Linked DNA regions of Homo sapiens: all the other regions are linked to region 1. The links come from fine-mapping of genetic effects on gene expression. A gene starts in region 1. Each other region holds a variant in brackets. All regions are shown on one strand. Distances are from middle to middle.

What was found.
Region 2: its variant is fine-mapped to the expression of SGSM1 in sun-exposed skin (GTEx, PIP above 0.99). The same link has a PIP of 0.9 or more in unexposed skin.
Region 3: its variant is fine-mapped to the expression of SGSM1 in thyroid (GTEx, PIP 0.97).

The regions. Positions count from the first base shown.
Region 1 is chr22:24,801,962-24,810,140 of GRCh38, reverse strand. It overlaps SGSM1 (small G protein signaling modulator 1), which reads right to left and starts at 3,930. Exons shown (of 25, transcript NM_001098497.3): 1 at 3,797-3,930; 2 at 3,657-3,700. The coding sequence starts at 3,815. RefSeq lists a silencer at 3,883-4,092.
Region 2 is chr22:24,772,178-24,780,356 of GRCh38, reverse strand. PIWIL3 (piwi like RNA-mediated gene silencing 3) reads left to right here and starts at 5,637. Exons shown (of 21, transcript NM_001255975.1): 1 at 5,637-6,035. The variant C/T (reference allele first, on the strand shown) is at 4,337.
Region 3 is chr22:25,040,581-25,048,759 of GRCh38, reverse strand. KIAA1671 reads right to left here. Exons shown (of 13, transcript NM_001145206.2): 5 at 7,235-8,179. Among named protein-coding and RNA genes, the nearest start is that of KIAA1671-AS1, 68 kb to the left of the region's middle. The variant A/G (reference allele first, on the strand shown) is at 4,335.

The sequences.
Region 1 (8,179 bases):
TCCTCCCCATTCCTTTCCCTTGCTTTTGGGATAAGACCACATGTTCCGCCTTCTCCGCATCTGCACCTTTCTCCTTTGTCTCTGCTCCGGTCACTTCGGTTCCTTCAAATTCACAGTGTTCCCTCCAGCCACAAAGCTTCTGCATGTACAAAACCTTCTGCCAGGAATGGTTTTTCTTAGTGTCTCTCAACCCTCTTATCTTCACCTTAAAGTCCTACTCATCTTGCACCTGTCTTCTGAAACGTCATATCCTGGGCCCCTGCACATGGTCAGTTGTCCCTGTTTTGGGTTCTTGCAGCCCCGGGTGCCTCTCCTTCACATCTCTGTTCACAGCCTGTAATTATCCTTGTAATTTTGATAAGGTAACTGTTGGGAGTGTGTTTCCTCCGCTGCAAGGTCAGCCCCAGGAGGACAGGGACAGGGCCCATCTACAAGGGGCCTGTCCCTGCTATATCCACAGAACCTAGCCCAGGGTCTGACACACAGCCCTCAGTAAATAAACACATCTGGGGTTGGAATCCAGCTCTAGTTGAGCCCAAAGTTCTTCTTGACCTGCCTCATGGGTGCTGTGTCCAGCTGGCTCCCCAGGCCAGCACTGGACAGTTTCCAGCTCCCAGCCTCTGTTGGCCCCTTCGTGGCTGCAGTGGCTCTGGCAAACCTTGCAGAGCTGCCCAGCCTATCTAGAGATGTCGATTGTTAAGGCACTCCTTCTAGAAAGAAGGCTGGGGAAACAGATGTACACACAGAAGACAGATATACACACAGACACATGTAGATATGTGTACATACAATGCAGTCTCTGGGTGAGGCTGTGACAGGCAGAGATGTGGCTCCTTTGAACCCAGAGAGTGGGGAGGAGGGAGATCTGATTTGACTCTCAGATTTCTAGGCAAAGAGCTTTCCCTTCTGTTCCACTAGAGACTGGCTCTCTGACACTGAGAGAGATGCTCCCCAAAGAGGTAAGCAAAGGAAGGAAAGGACAGGGGAGACGTGCTTTGGGGGGCACCGAGTTGTTGCCATGTTCTTAGGGTACCTATGTTGAATAGGAACTCAAAAGACAGAAGAACGGAACCTGTTCCCTCACACTGGTTCTGTGCCCTTGAAATGTCACTTATTGTCTCTGGGCCACAGTGTTCTCATCTGTACAGTAGAAACTGTACTGCCCACACATTCTGTCCAAGGTGTGGCACCGTGTAGATTTGGATGAGCATGTTTGTGGGATGGGAGGGTCAGAGTGTGGCTCTGACATCAAAAAGACCTGGGGGGTAAGTCCCAACTCTGTCCCATCTTGGCTGTGTGCTCTTGGGCAAGTTATTCCCCCTCTTTGAGCCCAAGACCCAAACTAGACTGACACGGGTCAGACCTTAGAGGACACTGATACTAATGCATCCTTCTGCAGATGGAGAAACTGACTCCTAGAGAGAAGAAGGAACCTGCGCAGGAAACTGAGGAAGATGGTAGCTGAGCTGGGACCTGGGCCTCAGCCAGAGCCTTCCCCAGATGTCTTACTGGTGTTCTCTTCTGCCTGCAGCCCCCTCCCCATTCAACCAACCATTGCCTTAAAAACAAAGCTACCCCAGGCAAAAACATCTCAGGGACACATATTACACGTAGGTCTGGTTAAACCACGAACAAAAAGACAGCAGGTGCTTTGTAAGGTACATGCCCCTCCACTGAAAGTGACAAGGATGTTGTTGGTCTGTGAGTTCTATTGAAAAGAGGTTCTAGGCTGGGAGCAGTGGCTCACGCCTGTAATTCCAGCACTTTGGGAGGCCGAGGCAGGCGATCACGAGGTCAGGAGATCGAGACCATCCTGGCTAACGTGGTGAAACCCCGTCTCTACTAAAAATAAAAAAATAAAAAATTAGCCGGACATGGTGGCTCCTGTAGTCTCAGCTACTTGGGAGGCTGAGGCAGGAGAATGGCGTGAACCCAGGAGGTGGAGTTTTTAGTGAGTGGAGACTGTGCCACTGTACTCTATCCTGGGCAACAGAGCGAGACTCCGTCTCAAAAAAAAAAAAAAAACACCAAGAAAAAAAAAAGATAAGAGGTTCTAGATGGATCTCCCTTGGAATACCCACAGGAGTCTATACAAGGGCTGAGCTGAAAACTTCTGGGCCTTTCTGAGGGATCCAATGTATTTTGCATGTCTCATTCGAAAATGCTAGAATGTGCAAGCAGCCCTGGAGCTCATTCTTTAAACAAAATAGGACATGCCACACACAGAGACACACACACACACACACACACACGCAGGCACATACTCATGCTCCCGGAGGACGGAGGAGCAGCAACAGGTCCAAGCCTCGAGGCTGCCCTTGGTGGCTGTCTGCCACTGTGCAGGGAAGGAGGGGTCATCAGTGATGCTTGATGCTGCCACCTCAGCCAACACCCCCAACACATACACACACATGCACGCATGTACACACACACACACTGAAAGCCAGGCCCAGAAACCAGGCCAGCCCACGATGTCTGCTGCCATGCAAGGCCTTGGGCTAAGCGCTGATAAGGTTCAAAAGTGATGAAGACACAGCAGCAATGGGGTCTGAGACTGAAGAATGGGGAGGGCAACACACAAGACACACGCACACAGACGGAGTCACAGCCCTAGTTATTCATGCAGACTCATGCATCACATGCCACACACCTACTCAAGATACACACACACACTCACAGCATCACTCATTCACAGACTCATGCACCACACAATATACACACACAGACCCACCCTCACAAAAACAGATACAAAGACACACATAGATACGTGTACACACAGTGCAAAGAGATACACTTAGGTATCTCCAGACAGATGCACAGACATTCTCATACGCACACACTCACAGCCACAGGTCCTCACCCATGCAGGTATACACACCAGAGCACGCAGTCCAGGCATCGAGATGCTACCCCAAGGACTATAAATTCTGTCTATGGGGTTCTGGGAGGTCATTGGCCATGAGCCCTAAAGACTAGACTGCCCCCCTCTCCACGCGCTGACCCCAAGGAGAGTGGAGGGGCAGAGGAATGGCAGAACCTCTCTGATTCTCACCCTCTGAATGTGGGGTGGGAGTGGGGCGGGGGGAGTGAAGGGACCCCTACTGCCAGGGGAGCAGCTCACTGACCCGTGACTCTCAGGGAGGGAGTCCCCTGGCTCTTGGAGGTGGCTCCAAGGACTGAGAATTCGGGGGCTGGGAAGGGAGGTTTTATTTTCCTTCTGCCTTTTCCTGAAGCGTGCCCCACCTTCGGCAGCCCCATTCAGAGCCCCTCCTCCAGCACACCCTGTGGGGGGCGTCCCCCTAGCAGCTTCTCTCTCTTGGAAGGTCCCCTTCCTGAGCCGCGCCCACCTGCTCCTCCACAAGAGGAGGTCCTATCGGGATACATCCAGGTGTGCCCCACACCTGGAGGGCCCTCACGCTACATCCGCCCCCGCAAAAAGCCTCAAATGGGCCAAAGCCTCCCCACACCTACGCCCACCCCCAAACTCCCTCGCTGCGCCTCCTGCCCTGCGGGAGGTCAATGCCCACCCAGGTGAGCCCCACACCTGTTCTGGCCGCCCCCCCGCCGCCAGAGGCCACCCTTCCACGAAGACTCTTTTCCCGTTTGGCCGCTGCTGCCGGGGGAGTCCTGCCCAGTGCCCCCACCCCGGCACCCACCTCCTTCTTGACGGTGCGTAGCAGCCTCTGTCGGGTCTCCGCCTCTGTGGGACAAGAAACGAGAGCCGCGGGTCAGCCGAGAGAGGGTGCGGGGGCCGGGCGCTGCCCTCCCGCCGCCCTCGTGTCCAGCGGCCTCTTACCCGCGGGGGCCGAGGCCATGGCTCCGAGCGCTGCGTTCCGAGTCCCAGGAGGCGGTGGCGGCGGTGGCGGCGGTAGCTCCTCCGGCCGCGGCGCTGCTGCTGCAGCCGCGGCGGGGCGGGGCCGAGCGCTGAGTGACGGCCGGAGGGCGCCCGACGTCAGGACCCGAGGCGGCCGCCCCACCCCTCCGGAAAGCCACCGCTCGGCGGGGCAGCCGGGTCGCCTGCGCCAGGAGCCTTCGCGCCAAGCACGCACGCTCCCTCCCGCGCACCCAGCGCCCGAGCCTCTCAGGCTCCCCCAACCTCCACGCCAGCGCCCGCGTCCCTCCCTCTTCCCTAGGGCGGGGAAGGAAAGCGTCCGTCCTGAACCCTCCTCTGTGGGCCAGGCTCCAGGAAGTCACAGGAAATGGTGGGGCTACTACCGATATTCTCCAAGCCTCAGTTTTCTCATCTTTAAAATGGGTATAATGTGGTATAAAATGGGCATAATGGGTCTCAGAACGATCTGAGCCTTAAGTGAGATATTGGATGTGAAGCCCTTAATACAGACCCAGGGGGAAAGGCCAGCGAGCATAAATGCTTGCCACTGTTACTGTTATTATTATTAATTATTATTATTGAGGGTCTTCCAGCCGGTCGCGGTGGCTCACGCCTGTAATCCCAACACTTTGGGAGGCCGAGGCGGGCAGATCACTTGAGGTCAGGAGTTCGAGACCAGCCTGGCCAACATAGTGAAACCCCGTCTCTACGAAAATACAAAAATTAGCCGGACATGATGGCGAGCTGCCTGTAATCCCAGCTACTGGGGAGGCTAAGGCAGGAGAATCTCTTGAACCCGGGAAGCAGAGGTTACAGTGATCCAACATGGCGCCATTGCACTCCAGCCTGAGCGACAGAGTGAGACTCCGTCTCAAAAAATAAAAAAAATACAAATACAAAAATTAGCCAGGCATGGTGGCGTGCTCCTGTAATCCCAGCTACTCAGGAGGCTGAGGCATGAGAATTGCTTGAACCCTGGAGGCAGAGGTGTCAGTGAGCCAAGATTGTGCCACCACACTCCAGCCTGGGCAACAAAAGTGAAACTCCATCTCAAAAAAAAAAAAAAAAAAAAGAGTCTTCCAAGATACACTGGTTATCCATTCAGGAGAGGCCGGGACTTAAGTGGCTCCCTCCCCGACATGCAGGTCACTGGAGGAGTGGGGTTTTCCCAGGAGTCTGGCCCCAAAAGGAGGCACTTGTCAGCCAGGATCTCTGGGGCTGAGCAAGCAGTGGGCTCTGTGGGAAAAGCCTTGTTCCATCAAGAGCCCCTGGTCACCCCAAGTCCCTAACTGTATCCACCCAGAATGCAACTCAGGTCAATATTTATTGAGCACCTACTCTGTGCCAAGTGACTGTGCTAGAGATTTCTAAGTGAGCAAGACAGACAATGAACTCTGCCCTCATGGAGTTTAGGAGGCGGACAACAAAATATGTAAGAAAAGGACAGACCATGCTGGAAAGTTCTGGAGAAAAATTAAGTAGGCAAGGGGGACAGGGAGGGCCCAGACCCCTGGGGATCGTATTCTGAAGTAGGGTGGTTGAGGGAGGCCCCACTGAGCAGGTGACATTTAAGCAAAGAGGAAAAGGAGTAGGCCATGGGGATTTCTGGAGGAAGAGCAGTTGAGTCAAGGGAACAGCAAATGCAAAGTCCCTGAGGAGGGAGTGTGTCCAGTCAAACAGTGACAAATAGCACAGATGCCTGTGGGGCTGGAGTGGTGTGAACAATGGGGACGGTGGTGGGATGTTGGCCAGAGAGGTGCAGGGCCAAAACCCTGTATGACTTTGATGGTGATGTTAAGGATTTGCAATGCCTTTTAGGGTCCCCCAGTATTCAGGCCTTCCTTCAGAAGGACTAGAGGGCAGCTTAGAGTGCCTCTCCGTGCAGCAGTGGATCCAGAGCCCCCTTTTTTCCATTGGTCAGTGTCAGGGGTCTCTGGCCGTAAGCCACAGAAGCTGACTTTGGCTTCCTCAGGCAAAAGGAAATAAACTGGGAAGATAATATGTGATCCCAGAGCCCATGGGAGCCTGGAGAACTGGGAAATGGGATGAAATCAAGGTGGCTCTGGAAGGCCAGAAAGGGGAATCTTGGGAATATTTGCCTGGCAAGGACAGTGTGGTTAGGGCACTGCTGCTCTGGTAAAGAGAATGCCATTCGTTTAAGGTTTTCATCCTATGGAGGGAGTGCCTGATTGTCCTGACCTGGGACACAAGCCTGCCCATTGGCTTGGGGAGAGGTGTCTCAATCACAAACCCCTGCTCCACAATCTCCAGCAAGTCCCCCAGGAGAATGGGAAATGGTTGCTTGGCAGCAAAAATAATCATATATTGCGCACCTACTATGTGGCAGGCACTGCGCTAAGGGCTTTGGGTTTTGCTCACATGATCTTATTGACCCTCCTTCCACCCCACGCTAACCCTATGAGCCTTATGTCATTGACAAAGCCAAGCCTGGAGGGGGTTTCATCCCTGTTTGTTTAACAAGTGTGTGGCCGCCAGGATTCTGACCTGAGGACCAAAGTGATTGATCCATTAGTTCCTCTCCTTGGCTTCACCCCTAAGTTAACTGGGGTACTTTAGGAAGGTGGTAGGGTGCCTAAGCCTCACTCTAGGGAATCATTTTTCAAAACCCACATTTTTCCTTTTCCTGCCAAGCACAAAGTCTGGGAAGTTGACCTGTGCTGGTCCTTGAAAACCTGGAGCTTTTCCTCCAAGATAAAGGACTCCATGGTGTTTGGTGCAGTTGCAACTGGCAGGAGGGCATGGTTGACCTGCATGCAACTCAGGTCAACAGATATTTATGAACACCTACTGTGTGCCAGGTGACTGTGCTAGATACTTCTAAGTGAACGAGACAGGCAAAAAGCTCTGCCCTCGTGGAGCTTAGGAAGCAGACAATAAAATAAGCAAATAATAGAGTATGTTGGAAAGTTCTGGAGGAAAACAAAGTAGGCAGGGGAGACAGGGAGGGCCCAGACAGATGGGGATTTTATTATGAAACAGAGTGGTTGAGGGAGGCCCCACTGAGCAGGTGACATTGGAACCCTGAATTCCATGGGACCAGGGATTGCACCCTGCTGCAGTTGGAACACTCACCACTAGGGGCACCATCACCTAAGATCAGCTTGGGAAGAGTTGCACTCTCCCTGTGGCCAGAATAGGAAAATTTACCTGGGTCCCAAAGCCTCCCCCAGTGTCTGAGAATCCCATTACCTGGCCTATGACACCTCACACCCTTAGCGCTGACCAGTGGTGCAGCAGCTGGAACCAGTTAAGAGAAGCCTCTTTCTCCAGCAATGTTTCTTCAGCGCCCTCAGCTGGGAAAGGTCAGCTCTGTGATCAGCGTAAATGAAAAATGCTAAGAAAGTCCAGGCTAGGCCGGACGCGGTGGCTCACACCTGTAATCCCAGCACTTTGGGAGGCCGAGGCGGGTGGATCGCCTGAGGTCAGGAGTTCGAGACCAGCCTGGCCAACACAGGCGTGGTGGTTCACACCTGTAATCCCAGCACTTTGGGAGGCCGAGGCAGGCGGATCATGAGGTCAGGAGTTCGAGACCAGTCTGGCCAACATAGTGAAACCCTGTCTCTACTAAAAATACAAAAAAAAATTAGCCGGGCCTGGTGGTGTGTGCCTGTAATCCCAGCTACTCGAGAGGCTGAGGCAGGAGAATTGTGTGAACCCGGGAGGCAGAGGTTGCAGTGAGCCAAGCTTGCACCACTGCACTCCAGTCTGGGCAAAAGAACTAGACTCCGTCTCAAAAAAAAAAAAAGAGAGAAAAAAAAAACAGCTTAACCAAGACATGCAGCTGGAAAGTAAGAGAGGCTAGATTCAGGCCGAGGCACTCTTGAGCCTCTTACTATACAGAGAAATCTTGATTAATGTTGTGTTGCATGCCCTATGCAGCAGATACTCCTTGTTGCTGCGATGGTGAATTTTATCTGTCAACTTGCTTGGACCAGGGGTGCTCAAACATTTGCTCAAAGGTTATTCTGGGCGTGACTGTGAGGGTGTTTGTAGATAAGATTAATGTTTGAATCCATCGACTGAGTAAAGCAGATTGCTGTCTCTGATGTAGGTAAGCCTCATTCAATCAATTGAAGATCTGAATGGAACAAAAAAAGGCAGAACAAGAGGAAACTCCTCCTGCCTGACTGTTTGAGCTGCGACATCTTTTCCCACCTTCTGACTCAAATTGAAACCTCTGCTCTTCCTGGGCCTCGGGCCTTCGGACTCAGACTAAAACTGCACTATCAGCCCTCCTGGGCCTCCAGTTTGCTGACTGCAAATCCTGGGACTTCTCAGCTTGCATAATTGTATAAGCCAAGTTCTTGTAATAAATCTCCTTATATA
Region 2 (8,179 bases), 30 kb after region 1:
TCGGCCTCCCAAAGTGCTGGGATTACAGGCGTGAGCCACCACGCCTGGCCAAAATATGGCAACTTTGAAGTGAGCCATCTGTGTATCCATCTGGTTTTTCCCCCAAGAATACCAGAGGGAAGAGCCTCTAAGAACAGAAGTGCAGGTGCTAACCCAATCCTGTGGAGGCAGGTTGGGAGAGATGTATTTACTGTATGACCCAGCAATTTCACTTCAAGGTACTTAAGCAAGAGAAATCAAACTTATTTTCACACAAAAACCTGTATGTGAATATTTTAGCTGCTTTATTCATATCTCCTGGATATAGAGCTATTGAGGTTCCATAATTTTGGGGGGTGAGTTTGTAATTGTATTTAGTTGTTATGGGAATAACAGTATATTTACCAAACCTTTCACCTTCTAATTAGAGTTAATAATTTACCAATTCAAGTAAAATGTAGTCACCTAATGGCCACATGGATGCTGACACCCTTCACTCTTTGTTACAGTTGTCCTATGTGCCACATCTGCATATTTGAACGCTGCCCTCTGAGATGGTACTATAATTTTTGTTGTCACAAGTCTTACTTATAGTCAAGAATTTAAGGCCGGGCATGGAGGCTCATGTCTGTAATCTCAACACTTTGGGAGGCTGAGGCGGGCGGATCACTTGAGGTCAGGAGTTCGAGACTAGCCTGGCCAACATAGTGAAACCCTGTCTCTACCAAAAAAAAAAAAAAAAGCTACAAAGATTAGCTAGGTGTGGTGGCAGGCACCTGTAATCCCAGCTACTCAGGAGGCTGAGGCAGGAGAATTGCTTGAACCCAGGAGGCAGAGGTTGCAGTGAGCCCAGATCACACTACTGCACTCCAGTCTGGGTGACAAGAGTGAGACTCTGTCTCAAAAAAAAAAAAAAAAAAAATTAAGAGGAGAAAAATAGGGTATCACATTTACACATATATGTACCATTTCTCTTGCTCTTACTTTATTCCTGTAGTTCCAAGCTTCCTGCCTATCTAATTTCATTTCAGTCCGTTTGTACTTCTTTCACATAATGTTAGAGTAAGTTGTCCAGTGATGAAGTCTCTTAGTTTTATTCCCATCTCCATGTCATTCATTCTTTTTCTTTTTCCTTTTCCTCTTTCAATCTTTAAGGATATTTTTGCTGCATATGGTATCTTGGGTTGATAGTTCTCTTTTTCTTTTTTCTTTCTTTCTTTTTTTTTTTTTTGAGACAGAGTCTTGCTCTGTTGCCCAGGCTGGAGTGCAGTGGCGCGATCTCAGCTCACTGCAACTTCTGCCTCCCGGGTTCAAGTGATTCTCCTGCCTCAGTTTCCTGAGTAGCTGGGATTACAGGCACCCATCACCATGCCCAGCTAATTTTTGTATTTTTAGTAGAGACAGGGTTTCACCATGTTGGTCAGGCTGGTCTCAAACTCCTGACCTCATGATCCACCTGCCTCAGCCTCGCAAAGTGCTGAGATTACAGGCATGAGCCACCGTACCCGGCCAATGCTCTTTTTCAACATTTAAAAATGTGGTTCTGCTTTCTTCTGGCATCTTTCTGAGAAATCACAAGCATTCATATTGTAATTTCCTCGTGTATAACGTGTCATTTCCCCCCTCTGTTTTCTAGACTTTTTTCTTTAGTTTAGGTTGTTATAATCTAGCAGGGTGAGGGTTTTCTGAGCTTCTTGGATCTATGTTTCACAAGTTTGGGAGGTTTTCAGTCAATTTCCCCTCAATTTATTCTGCATCAAGTTCTTCTTTCAGGCACTCCAATGGGCAGAATGTTAGAAATTTTGATAGTAGGCCAGGCGCGGTGGGTCACGCCTGTAATCCCAGCACTTTGGGAGGCCGAGGCGGGCGGATCATGATGTCAGGAGATCGAGACCATTCTGGCTAACATGGTGAAACCCCGTCTCTACTAAAAATACAAAAAAAATTAGCCGGGCGTGGTGGCGGGCGCCTGCAGTCCCAGCTACTCGGTAGGCTGAGGCAGGAGAATGGGGTGAACCTGGGAGGCGGAGTTTCCAGTGAGCCAAGATGGCGCCACTGCATTCCAGATTGGGTGACAGAGCGAGACTCCGTCTCAAAAAAAAAAAAAAAGAAATTTTGATAGTGTCCCACACATCTCTGAGGTTCAGAGAATTACTCCTCAATCTTTATTTCTTTGTTCGTCATATTGTATCATTTCTATTTACATATCTTCAATTTCACTGATTTTTTTCTCCAGTCTATAATTGAGTTGAATCAGTACATTTTTCATTTTAGATGTTGCATATGCATTTAAGATTTCCATTTGCTTCTTTTTTATAATTTCTTCTCTTCTGATGAAGACTTGTAGCTTTCCATTAATTTTAAGAGTACTTAGGCCGGGCGCGGTGGCTCACCCCTGTAATCCCAGCACTTTGGGAGGCCGAGGCGGGCGGATCATAATGTAAGGAGATCGAGACCATCCTGGCTAACACGGTGAAAACCCGTCTCTACTAAAAACACAAAAAATTAGCTGGGCGTGGTGGCGGGCGCCTGTAGCTCCAGCTACTCAGGAGGCTGAGACAGGAGAATTGCTTGAACCCGGGAGGTGGAGCTTGCAGTGAGCTGAGATCACACCACTGCACTCCAGCCTGGGTGACAGAGCAAGACTCTGTCTTAAAAAAAAAAAGAGTACTACCTTTATTTTATTTTTTTGAGAATGGTTATAATAGATGTTTTCCCTCTAAATTTTAAATCTAATTATAACTTTAACTAGAATTAAATTTTAACCAAACTTCTGATTAAAGCATAAATTGTCCCTTCATGTGGGTCTTTCAAGGCCGGATTTTTGATTATCTTTTCCCTTGAGAGTTGGTCAGATTTGTCTTATGTTCTACCGCATAATTTTGGAGAGTATCCTGGACAGTTTGCTTATTATATTGTGAGATTCTGGTTCTTACTAAAATCTGCCAGAGAAATGTTCATTTTGTTGTTGTTATTGTTGTCGTATTGAGCATTCAACATAGTTTAGGTTAAACCACATATTCTGTCTTGTTTTCTTTTCTTTTTTTTTTTTTTTTTTTTTTGAGACGGAGTCTCACACTGTCACCTGGGCTGGAGTGCAATGGCTCAATCTCAGCTCACTGCAACCTCCACCTCCTGGGTTCAAGCGATTCACTTGCCTCAGCCTCCCAAGTAGCTGGGATTACAGGCGCCCGCCACCACGCCTGGCTAATTTTTTGTATTTTTAGTAGAGACGGGGTTTCACTATGTTGGCCAGGCTGGTCTTGAACTCCTGACCTCGTGATCTGCCCACCTTGGCCTCCCAAAGTGCTGGGATTACAGGTGTGAGCCACCGTGCCCAGCCCTGTCCTGTTTTCTTTGACAGTTGTTCCAGTCTCAGTGCAGTTTTCAAGCCTTTGCTATGCTGGTGTATCCACTTGGGTAAATCTGGGAGTTGAGTGGTGGTTTATATTATAGTTCGTTTCTCAAAACCCTTGCTCTGCTTCTGTGCATGCATAGTTCAGGGTGATCCTAGGACTTATGTTAATTCATACATCCATTTAAGTGATCCCCTTTAGCTTTCTCCTCTGCAGGATTCTGCAGGGTTCCGTTTTCATGCTCCTATCAGTGTTGCAGCACCCGTGCTGCTGTGCAGTTACACGCGTCTAGGTCAGCCTTTCAAGTGAAGTACAGGAAGAAACAAAAAGAGATTTCCCCTATACTTTTCAGATGCAGAAGTCTCTTTCCTTTTCCTCTGCCCAGTGAGCCAAGTGATTTCTCAGGGCTTTAGGTCCCTCTGCCATTGCTGAGGCTGCAGGACAGCTTTGCAACTGGGGAGATAAAAACAAAACAAACCAAGGATGATCCCCTTACTCCTTGATGTGCAGGAGACCCCTTTCCCACTAGCCTAGCTAGAAATTTAGGTGGTTTATCACAGACTTTTTACTTTCAGTGCCTGCTGGACAGTTCTATGACTCCACATGCCCTTGGGTAAACCAGAAGAAAGAGGAGGAAAATTAACTTACTATAGTCACCCCATTGAAAGGGCCTTTGCAAAACTCATAACTGAGAAAATTATGACAGTGAAACAGATCAGACCTAACCGACCACACCTTGCTTCTAACGCCTAAGCTGTCTTTGTTCATTCCTGGGCATAGGCCAAACTAGTCTTGGGGAAGAATTGTTTATAGTTTAAATTCTGAAACAAAACTGATAATAGTCCTTTCCTGAAAAAAAGACGCTTCTTGCGTGGGGAACTGTCCTGCCTTTGTAGGACTAACAAATTAGCTACAAGATGAGAGATTACGGCTTAGGGGCCATGCAGCTTCTGGCCGCAAGAGTCTGAACCTCCCCAAGTTGCTTCTGGGAATAAAATCTC[C/T]GTTGCAAAACTTAAGATCAGTGCTTGAGATATTTTGCATACCCTGAATTCCGATGCAGCAGATGACACCACCCAGACTGATAATCTGGCTCAACCAGTCCTGCGATCTCATCCAGGAAGAGAAATCAGCAAGAACTCACTTCCACCCCCATGATTCCATCTCCAACCCGACCAATAAGCACTCCCTACTTCCTGAGCCCATACCCACCAAATCATTTTTAAAAACTCTGATCCCCGACTGGGCATGGTGGCTCACGCCTGTAATCCCAAGGTGGGTGGATCACTTGAGGTCAGAAGTTTGAGATCAGCCTGGCCAATATCATGAAACCCCGTCTCTACTGAAAATACAAAAATTAGCCTGGTGTGGTGGCATGCACCTGTAATCCCAGCTACTCAGGAGGCTGAGTCAGGAGAATCGCCTGAACCCGGGAGGCGAAGGCTGCAGTGAGCAGAGATCACATCACTGCACTCTAGCCTGGACGACAGAACGAGACTCCATCTCAATAAATACATAGAGATATAAATAAAATAAAATAAAATAAAGTTTCTTAAAAAAAATAGGAAATCTCCTGAAAAACCTTTTCAGAAAAATAGCCACAGGTGCATGTTTGGCTCGTGTTTTTCCCAGAAACAACCTAAATCTGGCTTGATAAACCTTGATTGATGTATTTGCCCCAGTCACTCATGTTGTAACCAGCAAAAGGGCCCAGCTGCTCACTGCTTGTAGAAAGAAGTCAAAATGATAATGACATGTGATTTAAAAAGAAAGAATTTTATAATCTATGCTAGCAAGGGCAAGAGCAGAGAGCAATTCCACTCTTCCACGTGAGGAAAGAACGCAGGGGTTTTTTTTGTTTGTTTTTTGCGACGGTGTCTTGCTCTGTCGCCCAATCTGGCTGGAGTGCAGTGGCGCAATCTCAGCTCACTGCAACCTCCGCCTTCTGAGTTCAAGCGATTCTCCTGCCTCAGCCTCCCGAGTTGCTGGGACTACAGGCACATGCCACCATGCCCAGCTGATTTTTTGTATTTTTAGTAGAGACGGGGTTTCCCCGCGTTAGTCAGGATGGTCTCCATCTCCTGACCTCGTGATCCTCCGGCCTTGACCTCCCAAAGTGCTGCGATTACAGACGTGAGCCACTGCGCTCGGATGAACGCAGGGGTTTTTATTTATTTTATTTTATTTTTTAAGATATTTATTTATTTGTTTATTTTTTGAGACAGAGTCTCACTCTTTCACCCGGGCTGGAGTGCAGTGGCGTGATCTCGGCTCACTGCAAGCTCCGCCTCCCGGGTTCACGCCATTTTGCTGCCTCAGCCTCCCGAGTAGCTGGGACTACAGGTGCCCGCCACCACGCCCGGCTAATTTTTTGTATTTTTAGTAGAGATAGGGTTTCACTGTGTTAGCCAGGATGGTCTCCATCTCCTGACCTCATGATCTACCCGCCTCAGCCTGCCAAAGTGCTGGGATTACAGGCGTGAGCCACCGCGCCCGGCCAAAGCGGTTTTTAAAGGGAGGATTTGGAAGGCAAAAGAGGCAGGGGGACTGGGAGGTGTCAGGTGGTGTGACCCCCTCCAGTGGCTTGTCCTGAATTATTTTTCCATCTGTGGAAGTGGCCGGCGTCATCATGGCTGGAGGAGGTGCATGGTTCGTATCAGGATCTGACTACTGAAGCTTCTAAGGAAATATGTGACCAGATAAGTGAGTATGGTGTGTGCTTACCAAACAACTAGGTAAATAAATGTGCATAAGGCATGGGGGCATAGAACAGGAAAAGAAAGGGGGTGGAGGTTCACAGCACATTCCAAGGCTGGATTTCAAGAGGAGAGGAAACACGTCTATACTTTGTCTAAGTTACATCTTCAGATTAGCAGAAGAGAGGAAAGGGGAAAGGAAAAAAAGTTTTAAAATGCGGTTTGAGGTTAGGCTGCTAAGCTGCTGGGTTACAGATTCAGCTTATATTTGAGCATGTGGAGTATGTATATTTATTTTAAAAATCTAGAGCATCTTGGTCAGCCACAGTGGCTCATGCCTGTAATCCCAGCACTTTGGGAGGCTGAGGCGGCTGGACCATGAGGTCAGGAGTTCAAGACCAGCCTGGCCAAGATGGTGAAACCCCGTCTCTACGAAAAATACCAAAATTAACTGGGCGCAGTGGCGGGTGCCTGTAGTCCCAGCTACTTGGGAGGCTGAGGCAGGAGGATTGCTTGAACCTGGGAGGCGGAGGTTGCAGTGAGCCAAGATCGCACCACTGTACTCCAGCCTGGGCAACAGAGTGAGTGAGACTCCCATCTCAAAAAAAAAAAAAAAAAAAAAAAATCTAGAGTGTCTTGTACATATCCTTTAATAACCTACTTTTAAAAACTTAATATATTTTAGATACATATGTATATGTGTACCTACTTACATCCTTAAAACTGACGTGATGATAAATAAAACCGCGGAATTTCTATCAATATGTAAATGCTCTTCTCAGAAAAGGCGGGCTCTTTGCTCCTGTGGTTGATGGGGATGATGCAGATGGTGGCAGAGGCTTCCATTTTTTGAGCATTCGTTGTGGGACCTGCCAGTGCTTCAAGCTCAATACACCTTCTCCCATTTAACCCTCACAGCTCAGGAGGGGGTCCTGCCGGGACCTCCACTGCAGACAGGAAAAGAGGAGAAAGTTGGTATCTTCTGAATTCTTTTGGCAAAAGGAGAAGGGAAGAGGGTTCCTGTGCAGGGCATGCAGGAAGGCAGGAGTATGGAAAAGGGGGAAGGGACAGTGTGTAATGCCCTCCCTGCTGAGCCACATGGTTGGAATGGAGCATCACAGCAGAGATGGCAGAGCCAGAAACCCTAGGATCCGGTGTCAGAGGGACACAGGGCCCAGCTGCCAATGTGTGGCCCAGAGCAGTGGAGGACACCTTGGTTATGCCCTGGCACACAGCTTTCTACTGTCCTGGCATCTAAGCCCTGGGGACTGGGGCAGTGGGGTCAGTGCCCTCAGCTGGACACAGACACGTGGAGCAGAACTTGAAAAAGATGGGCCCCTGAGCCCATAGGACCCAGAGACCCAGCACCCAGGGAGGCCTGGGGAGGGAGAAGGACGCCCTCAGCTAGCACATGGGGGCTTGAGGTCCAGATAACTGTTAAGGTACCTCATCTGATCTCCCCACAGGGGACACCCGGCACATGCAGGCCTCCTTCCTGACTTCTCTGCCAACCTTTTCCCCAGCCTTAAAACTTTCTCTTCCCGATGTCATTGTGACACTTCTTCAGTTCTCCTTCTAGTCCACTAGATGCTGCTGTGCACCCACCTAAGCACCACCATTTCTAATTCCTGGGATCCTAGTTTGGGAAAGACAGGGGAGCTGGTCAGCCGTTCGGATTTCCCAGTGGGTAGAATGGAGACTGCAGCCTTTGCCAGGGCTCTTCTCCACTGTGGTAGTGATTTTAACTCCAGTAGCTGTAACTTGCTGAGCACTCAGCACCTGCTGAGCTCTTTGCACAGATTGGCTCCTGTAACCCCCACAGGCCCCTGTGACATAAGTTTTCAATACCCAACATACTAGGAAACAGGGTCTCAGAGAGATGATATCACCTGCTCAGGGTCACACAGCACATACCTGGACAGGCTATGATTCCACAAAGGTTTTTGTCTAAGTCCAAATGCCAGGGACATAATATTGTCCTGTTGCTCATAGAAGTTGCTATTTAATGAGCTCCTATTATGCAGACTTTATTCCTTCAATATAAGATTTACTTACATTGTGAAATATACAACTACTTAGTACTTAATACTTATATTGATAAGATTTACTTCTCTTTATTAATATGATTATCAAATCTAAGGGTTTAATCTT
Region 3 (8,179 bases), 240 kb before region 1:
TTTTAATCATCTCTTTATGCACCCAAACACACATGCATAGACACAGAGAAACGGTGCATGAACAGCACAGCACCTCCAGTACATCTACTTGGAATCCTGCTGTTTTTTTCCACTTAGTTATATATAGGGGAAACATTCACAGGCCAGGACTCCAGGATGCATATTTTATATGCTTCACACTCTCCCTGCGTGGACAAGGAAACAAAGGCCCAGAGATGGGAGGGAGCTGCTTAAGAACACACAGCACCAGGAAGAGGAAGACTGGATTTCTAATCCCTTCCCTCACAGCCTCTTTTCTGGATGCCTTCAGAGACCCTCTGGTTTTCCTCCTAACCCCCTGGCTCTTTTTGATCAGTGTCCCCACATGTCCCAGGCCAGCCGCAGAGCCATTTCTCCTTTTGCTACATCATTCCCTCTGGGATCTCTCTTCACGCCCCCCATGGCTTTAAATAAATCCCATCTACACCCAGATGCCTGCCAATTCTGTTTCTCAGTGTTGGAACTCCAGACTCGGAGATCCCACTGCTCACTCAACATCTCTTGGAAGCTCACACTCATCTCAGATCCACGTGCTCAAAACATGCGTCTTGATTCCATCTCTCCACAGTTGCTCCTCCCACACCTTGCCCATCCATCCCCCAGCTGGGGAGGCCAAGACCTTCGGGTTGCCCTCCATTCTCCTCCCCATTCTCTCCCACTTTTCTCCACTGCATCAGCAAAGCTGAGACTCTACCTGCAAAACATGCTGCAAATCTGACATACTATATACCAAAATCAACTTGAAATAGATCAAAGACCTAAATGTAAGAGCTAAAGCTAGAAAACTCTTAGAAGAAAATAGAGGTGTAAATCTTCAAGAGCTAGGCTTAGGCAGTGATTTCTTAAATATGATACCAAAGGCATAAACAACAAAAGAACAATAAATAAAATAGACTTCTTCAAAATTAAAAACTTTTGTGCTTTAAAGGGTACCATTAAGAAAGGGAAGGCCAGGCGCAGTAGCTCATGCCTGTAATCCCACCACTTCGGGAGGCCGACGCAGGTGGATCACCTGAGGTCAGGAGTTTGAGACCAGCCTCGCCAACATGGTGAAACCCCGTCTCTACTACAAATACGAAAATTAGCCAGGCATGGTGGCGAGCGCCTGTAATCCCAGCTACTTGGAAGGCTGAGGCAGGAGAATTGCTTGAACCCAGGAGGTGGAGATTGCAGTGAGCCGACATCACACCACTGCACTTCAGCCTGGGCAATAGAGTGAGACTCCATCCATCTCAAAAAAAAAAAAAAAAAAAGGAAAAGAGGCCAGGCATGGTGGTGGTGGCGGCTCACGCCTGTAATCCTAGCACTTTGGGAGGCCAAGGCAGGTTGATCACTTGAGGTCAGGAGTTCAAGACCAGCCTGGGCAACACGGTGAAACCCCATTTCTACTAAAAATATAAAAATCAGCTGGGCAAGGTGGCACATGCCTGTAATCCTTGCAACTCGGGAGGCTGAGGCAGGCGAATTGCTTGAATCCAGGAGGTGGAGGTTGCAGTGAGCCGAGATCATGCCACTGCACTCCAGCCTGGGCAACAGAGCAAGACTCTGTCTCAAAAAAAAAAAAAAAAAGAAAAGAAAAAAAATTAGCCAGGTGTGGTGGCATGTGCTTGTAGTCCCAGCTGCTTGGGAGGCTGAGGTGGGAGGACTGCTCGAGCCCAGGAGGTTGAGGCCGCAGTGAGCCATGATCTCACTACTACACTCCAGCCTGAGTGACAGAGTGAGACGCTGGCTCAAAAAAAAAAAAAAAAACTCTCAAGACACATTATATGAAAAACAGAAAGGTGGAAAATCTGTGGGTTCAACAGAGATCCTCAACCCAAGATTCCCCTGGGGAGCCTTCATAACTAACAAAGGCAGGTCCTACCCCAGAGATTCTGACCTAACTGGCCTGGAGAGAGGCCCAGTCATTGATATCTTTTAGGATTCCCTGTGTTACTCCCATAGGCAACCAAAGTTTCAACCACTTAGAGAAAGTGCTCTTTATTATGGAAAAGTGAAGCAAAAATAAAAATATGTATTTCTATGTGCTTGTATTTTCATAAAGAAGCCTCAAAAGAAAAAAAGGAATTTAAAAAAAAGGAATAAAAGTGATTACCGGGTGGAAGAAATGTAAGCATGGCAGGTATCAGGGGAATGTTTTTTAAGTATTTTTGGAGTGGAGCCATGTGAAATCGTCTCTCTCTTAAAACTAAAATAAATAATTTAAATAAATGAAATACTGTTGGGTCTGGGAAACAGTTTCTATAAATGTCTGTTAAGTGAAGAACAGAGAAAAAGAGAGGAAGGGATGGAGAGAGGAAGGGATGGAGAGAGGAAGGAATCACTTTAATGACCATCACACCCTTTTGGGCTGTAAATCAAGAAACCCTCACCCAAGGAACCAACCTTGTTTCTTTTTCTTCTTCTTTTTTTTTCTCTTGAGACAGAGTCTCGCTCTGTTGCCCAAGCTGGAGTGCAGTGGCACGATCTCCGCTCACTACAATCTCCGCTTCCTGGGTTCAAGCAATTCTCCTGCCTCAGCCTCCTAAGTAGCTGGGTCTACAGGCACCCGCCACCAAGCCCGGCTAATTTTTGTATTTTTAGTAGAGATGGAGTTTCACCATGTTGGCCAGGCTGGTCTCAAACTCCTGACCTCAAGTGATCTGCCAGCCTCGGCCTCCCAAAGTGTTGGGATTACAGATGTGAGCCACTGCACCCGGCACAACCCTGTTTCTAACACACACAAAAATTCAAATCCACCCAAATACCCATCAATGAGAGTCTAGGTTAAAATAGATTGGGCTCAGTCACATAATACAATACTTCGCAACCATTAAAAAGAGGAAGGGGAGGCCGGGTGCAGTGGCTCACGCCTGTAATTCTAGCAGTTTGGGAGGCCAAGACAGGTAGACTGCTTGAGGCCAGGAGTTCAAAACCAGCCTGGTTAACATGGTGAAACCCCATCTCTACTAAAAATACAAAAAATTAGCCAGGAATGGTGGTGTGCACCTGTAGTCCCAGCTACTCAGGAGGCTGAGGCAGGAGAATCACTTGAACCCGGGAGGCGGGGGTTGCAGTGAGCCAAGATCCTGCCACTGCACTCCAGCCTGGGCCACAAGAGCAAAACTCCATCTCAAAAAACAAAAGTAAGCCACAAGATTTTCTATAGACTGTTGTAGTTTTCCATAGAAAGCTTATGTATTTACCTATATCTAAGTCTATGCATTTACCTTTATCTATGTCTGTGTCTAGACCAGGGTTCCTCAACCTACAAACTGCAAACACTTGGGGCTGGAGCATTCTTTGCAGTGGGGGCTGTCTTGTGCCTTGTAGGATGTTGGGCAGCATGCTTGGCTTCTACCCATGAGACGCTAATAGCAACCTCTTCCCAGGGTGTGACAACAACAAAATATGTCTCCAGACACTGCCAAATGTGCCCCAGGGGCAAAATTGCCCATAGTTAAAAACCACTAATGGGCCTAGAGGGGTGTTCCCCAGTTTATGCACCACGCTCAATATTTAAAGGAGATTTTCTCTCTACACCATTTTTCTATAGTATTTCAAAATTTTTTTTTTTCTTTGAGACGGAGTCTCTCTCTGTCGCCCAGGCTGGAGTGCAGTGGCGTGATCTTGGCTCACTGAAAGCTCCGCCTCCCGGGTTCACGCCATTCTCCTGCCTCAGCCTCCGGAGTAGCTGGGACTACAGGCGCCCGCCACTGTGCCCGGCTAATTTTTTTGTAGTTTTAGTAGAGACAGGGTTTCACCGTGTTAGCCAGGATGGTCTCAATCTCCTGACCTCGTGATCCACCCGCCTCGGCCTCCCAAAGTGCTGGGATTACAGGCATGAGCCACCGTGCCCAGCCAGTATTTCACATTTTACGCAAGCATTCGCTACTGTTGCAATATGAAAAGCATGACAATTATGCATATATATATGATTGATAAGTGACTGTCAATATAGGAAAGTCCGAAAGGACATAAACAATGTAATGGTGGCTGCCTCTGGGGGAACACTCACCTTTTATTTTCTATACCCCTGTAAGGTTCAAAATTTTAACAACCAACATTTTTTCCTTCTGTATTGGTGTGTTTTTATTTTTTTTTTTAAGATCAAAGAACCAAAGATCTTTTGGCAGGAGACAAGAGAGAAACGGGAAGCTGGTCCAAGGCTTCCCAATCCCGTGGTGAGAAAACAGATCCCCTGACAACCAGCACTGCTGGGGCCTGCGTGCTCCAGGCAGGCATCCAAGGCTGGGCTGCGGGACAGAGCTGAGCCCAGGATCCCCCCTCCACAACATCCCGACTCCCCCACCACC[A/G]GCGGGCCCTGAGCAAGGTGCTGGCAAACATAAGTGTCGCATTTCCTTGGCCTCTTCCTTCTTCCACTGTTACCACAACATCAGCCTGCAGGTAGGGACAGATGAAACCCTTCTCAGGAAGCACACGGGGATGGCCCAAGTTCGGTGCTTTATTTCAATTCAGTCTAATAACAGTGCTTTGGGGCAGGAATCCCTGTTAACTCTGGCATGGCAACTGAGGCCAGGAGAGGCCAAGAGGCTGCTTTACACACAGCAGGCAAGTAGCAGCGTGGAGATTCAGATGCCAAGTCTGCGTGATCCTGCACATGGTGGTTGGAGAGCTTGGCCTCTTGGGAACAGACATGGGTTCAAAGCCTGACTCCATCACTTACCCACTCTTAACTGAAGGCAAATCCTCACCGCATGATCATTACTGACTGTATCCTAGAGTTTCCTTTCTGCAGCATCCACTTCCAGACTGGCCACCTAGTCCCTTTTACAGACAAGAAAACTCGGGTGCAGGGAGGTGAAAGGTTTTGCCCTGTATCACTCAGCTGCAAGTGGCAAAGGAAGAATCTGTGGCCTGATTTGCTGATGCCACATCACACAGGGCGGTGCTAAGTCCATTTCCACATGTCCCCCACAACATTCTACGCTCTTCCCACCTCCAAACCTTTGTCCATGCTGTGCCCTGCTGAGAATGCCCTCACCTCCCCTCATCAGCCCACCCAAAAGCATGGCCAACCCTCAAGCTTGGGCTGAGACCACCGACTCCTCCAGGACACCTTGGGCCACCTCTCCAGTGCCTCCCTCTGCACCCCATCACTCCCCAGTCTTGGATCACAATGGCCCATCTCCCCACAGAGATCAGAAGCTTCAAAGGGTGGTCCTTATGCCTCAGATTTCTTCCCCACCTTCGTGGTTCTTCACCAGAATGGTCTCCTAGAATATGGCCCAGTTGGGTAATTAAGGCCAGATTTGGGTTCAAATACCAGTTTTGTTACTTACTGCTGTGTGACCTGGGACAAGTTATTTCACCTCTCTGAGCCTCTGTTTTTTTCCCCCCATCTGTACAGGAAGATGATCACACAGCAGTAGGTAGTGTCAGCACTCTGCCCAACACTCAGGTATATGCCAAAGATCAAGAGAAGGGGCCCTCTGCCAACACCCTAGAGCCTCACTGATAGATATTTGGGTAGATTTGAATTTGTGTGTGTGTGTTAAAAACAAAGTGGCTTATTTGGGTGAGGGTTTCTTCACAGCTATTCTGCTTATGTACCCCCAAAAGGGTGTGCTTGTAATTAAAGTGATCCCTTCCTCCTTTCCTCCCCACCCCCCACCCTGCCATCCATTCTTCTCTTTCTCTCTGTTCTTCACTGAACAAAGGAAGCCAGATTTTCTTTCTTCTGCTGTGCATGGTGCCAGCCAGGATGGAAAAGTCTGAATGTTCATGACCCCACAAACAGCCTCAGGCAAGGACAGAGGGATTGGAAAATACATACTCCAGGTCCCTTGACCCCTGGACATGACAACTTCAGAGGTGTTCCATGCTGCCTCCCGGGGTCCCCAGTGAGATGTGCCTCTGTGGCCAACCATGGCCCCTGTAGCACCTGCCTCACTTCTTCTCTCCCCTACTGGTTCTTCCTGGGATCACCCCCTTAAAAAGTGCTTACAGGCCGGGCGCAGTGGCTCGCGCCTGTAATCCCAGCACTTTGGGAGGTCAAGGTGGGCGGATCACGAGGTCAGGAGTTCAAGACCGGCCTGGCCAAAATAGTGAAACCCCGTCTCTACTAAAAAAAAAAAATACAAAAAATTAGCCGGGTATGATGGCGGGCTCCTGTAATCCCAGCTACTTGGGAGGCTGAGGCAGGAGAATCGCTTAAACCCAGGAGGCGAAGGTTGCAGTGAGCCAAGATCACACCATTGTATTCCAGCCCAGGTGACAGTGTGAGACTCCGTCTCAAAAAAAAAAAAAAAAAAAAACAAGGGACTGCTGGAACCCAAAACCATGGTGATCCCTCTTTTGAGGCTCACGTAAGATCACTTGTTCACTCATTCAACAAATACTTCTTGAACATTCACAGTATGTCAAGCATGATGCTGGATTCTGGGGACATAATAATGAACAGGATACAACAGGCTATTATACAGCAGGAGCACAATAAAGCTACCATTGATATCTATCATTATCGTCATTGTAGGACAGAAGTGTAAAACAGGTGGCCGGCGCGCTGCATGGGGCTAGCAGACAAGTCTTGTTTGGGCTGAACAGCATTTTTAAAAATAAGTCCTCCTCATTTCCTAATGGGAGGATTACACATAAAAATCTAGATTTTCAGATTCTCTTGATAAATGAGGTTTGCCATCTCAAGGCCAGCATTCCTGCCTGTGAAGAACCAGCTGGGCCAGGCATGGTGGCACACGCCTGTCATCCCAGCACTTTGGGAGGCCGAGGCAGGAGGATCACTTGAGCCCAGGAGTTTGAGACCAGCCTGGGCAACATGGCAAAACCCTGTCTCTACAAAAAATAAAAAATTAGCCAAGCATGGTGGCGCATGCCTGTCATCCCAGCTATTTGGGAGGCTGAGGCGGGAGGATGGCTTGAGCCCAGGAGATTATGGCTGCAGTGAGCCATGATCATGCCACTGCACTCCAGCCTGGGCAACTAAGCAAGACTCTTTGTTTCAAACAAACAAATAAACAAACAAAGAACCAGGTGGGACCAAGCAGCAGTTGTCCAGTTCAGATAGGGCATGAGCTCTCCATTTGCCACAATCCATACCCCTCCCTGGAGCCTCATACCCAGCCTGACTCCACTCATTTATGTACCCAAAGTGGGCCACACAAAATCTGAGTTTCGGCCCCCTAGACTAGATGTTTAAACCATGTTTGACAAAATTAAAAAGTGTCTCGGTACTTACCTTGTGACTGTCTCCAGTCCCTGACTCCCACCAACAGGGTCCCATTTTGGCCTCCAAATTCTCTCCAGTAAGGCTGGGCCTCCCTTTGGGCTGCTCTCGCCTCCTCTCTCTGGCTTCATGCATGATGGACAGGCCCTCTCGGATGTTGGCAGGGGGCCCCTTCTCTGAGTAGGCCCTCTTGATATCCAGCGGCACCCGTCCACAGTCACGTGGGTGGTCACCCCACTGGGCCACACTGTCCTCCTCTCCCCGCCCGGTGGATTTCCTTGGGGTCCCTTTCTTCTGGTCAGTGGGGGGCGATTTGGGTGACACCCTGACCCCACTGCCTGGATCCTCCCGACCAGAGGGCTTTGACTCAGCCAGGTAATTCTGACACTTTGCAACATGATGTTTACTGGCAAAGGCCTTTCTGTCATCCTCAGCAAACCCCGTTTTTTTCCTGGGATCCGCAGGTATAGGAGAGCCCCCTGGATACCTTTCAGAAGGAGCCGAGGGTGGCAGAGCCCAGAAGGGAGGGCTAGATTTGGTGCCCATGGCTGTCTCCAAGGTCTCTGCCAGCTGCTTGCCTAAGCCAGGAGTGAAACTGTGATTTATTTCGGCAGAACTGGCCGGTTTCCAGAGACCCCCGGTATCGGGCATCTCCTTCAGGCTCCTCCTTCTCTGCTCCACCCCGCCCAGCTGAACAGGCCTCTCCCGAGGCAACGTACTGGGCTCCACGGTGGGACTCCTCCTCTCCTGAGCCTCCCCAGGGACTTTCAGCGACAGCTCCTGGTACTCTGCCATCAGGGCGTCAATGTCAAGAACGCTGGATCTGTAGCCATCTCTGATTTTACCTGGGAACGTGTCACTGATCACATCAGTCTTCCTTCTCACAGGAAGATCTTTTGGACGACTCCTCAGAGTCGGGGTGGTTTGGGGAGCTCCGCCGCTGGGGGACATCTTGTT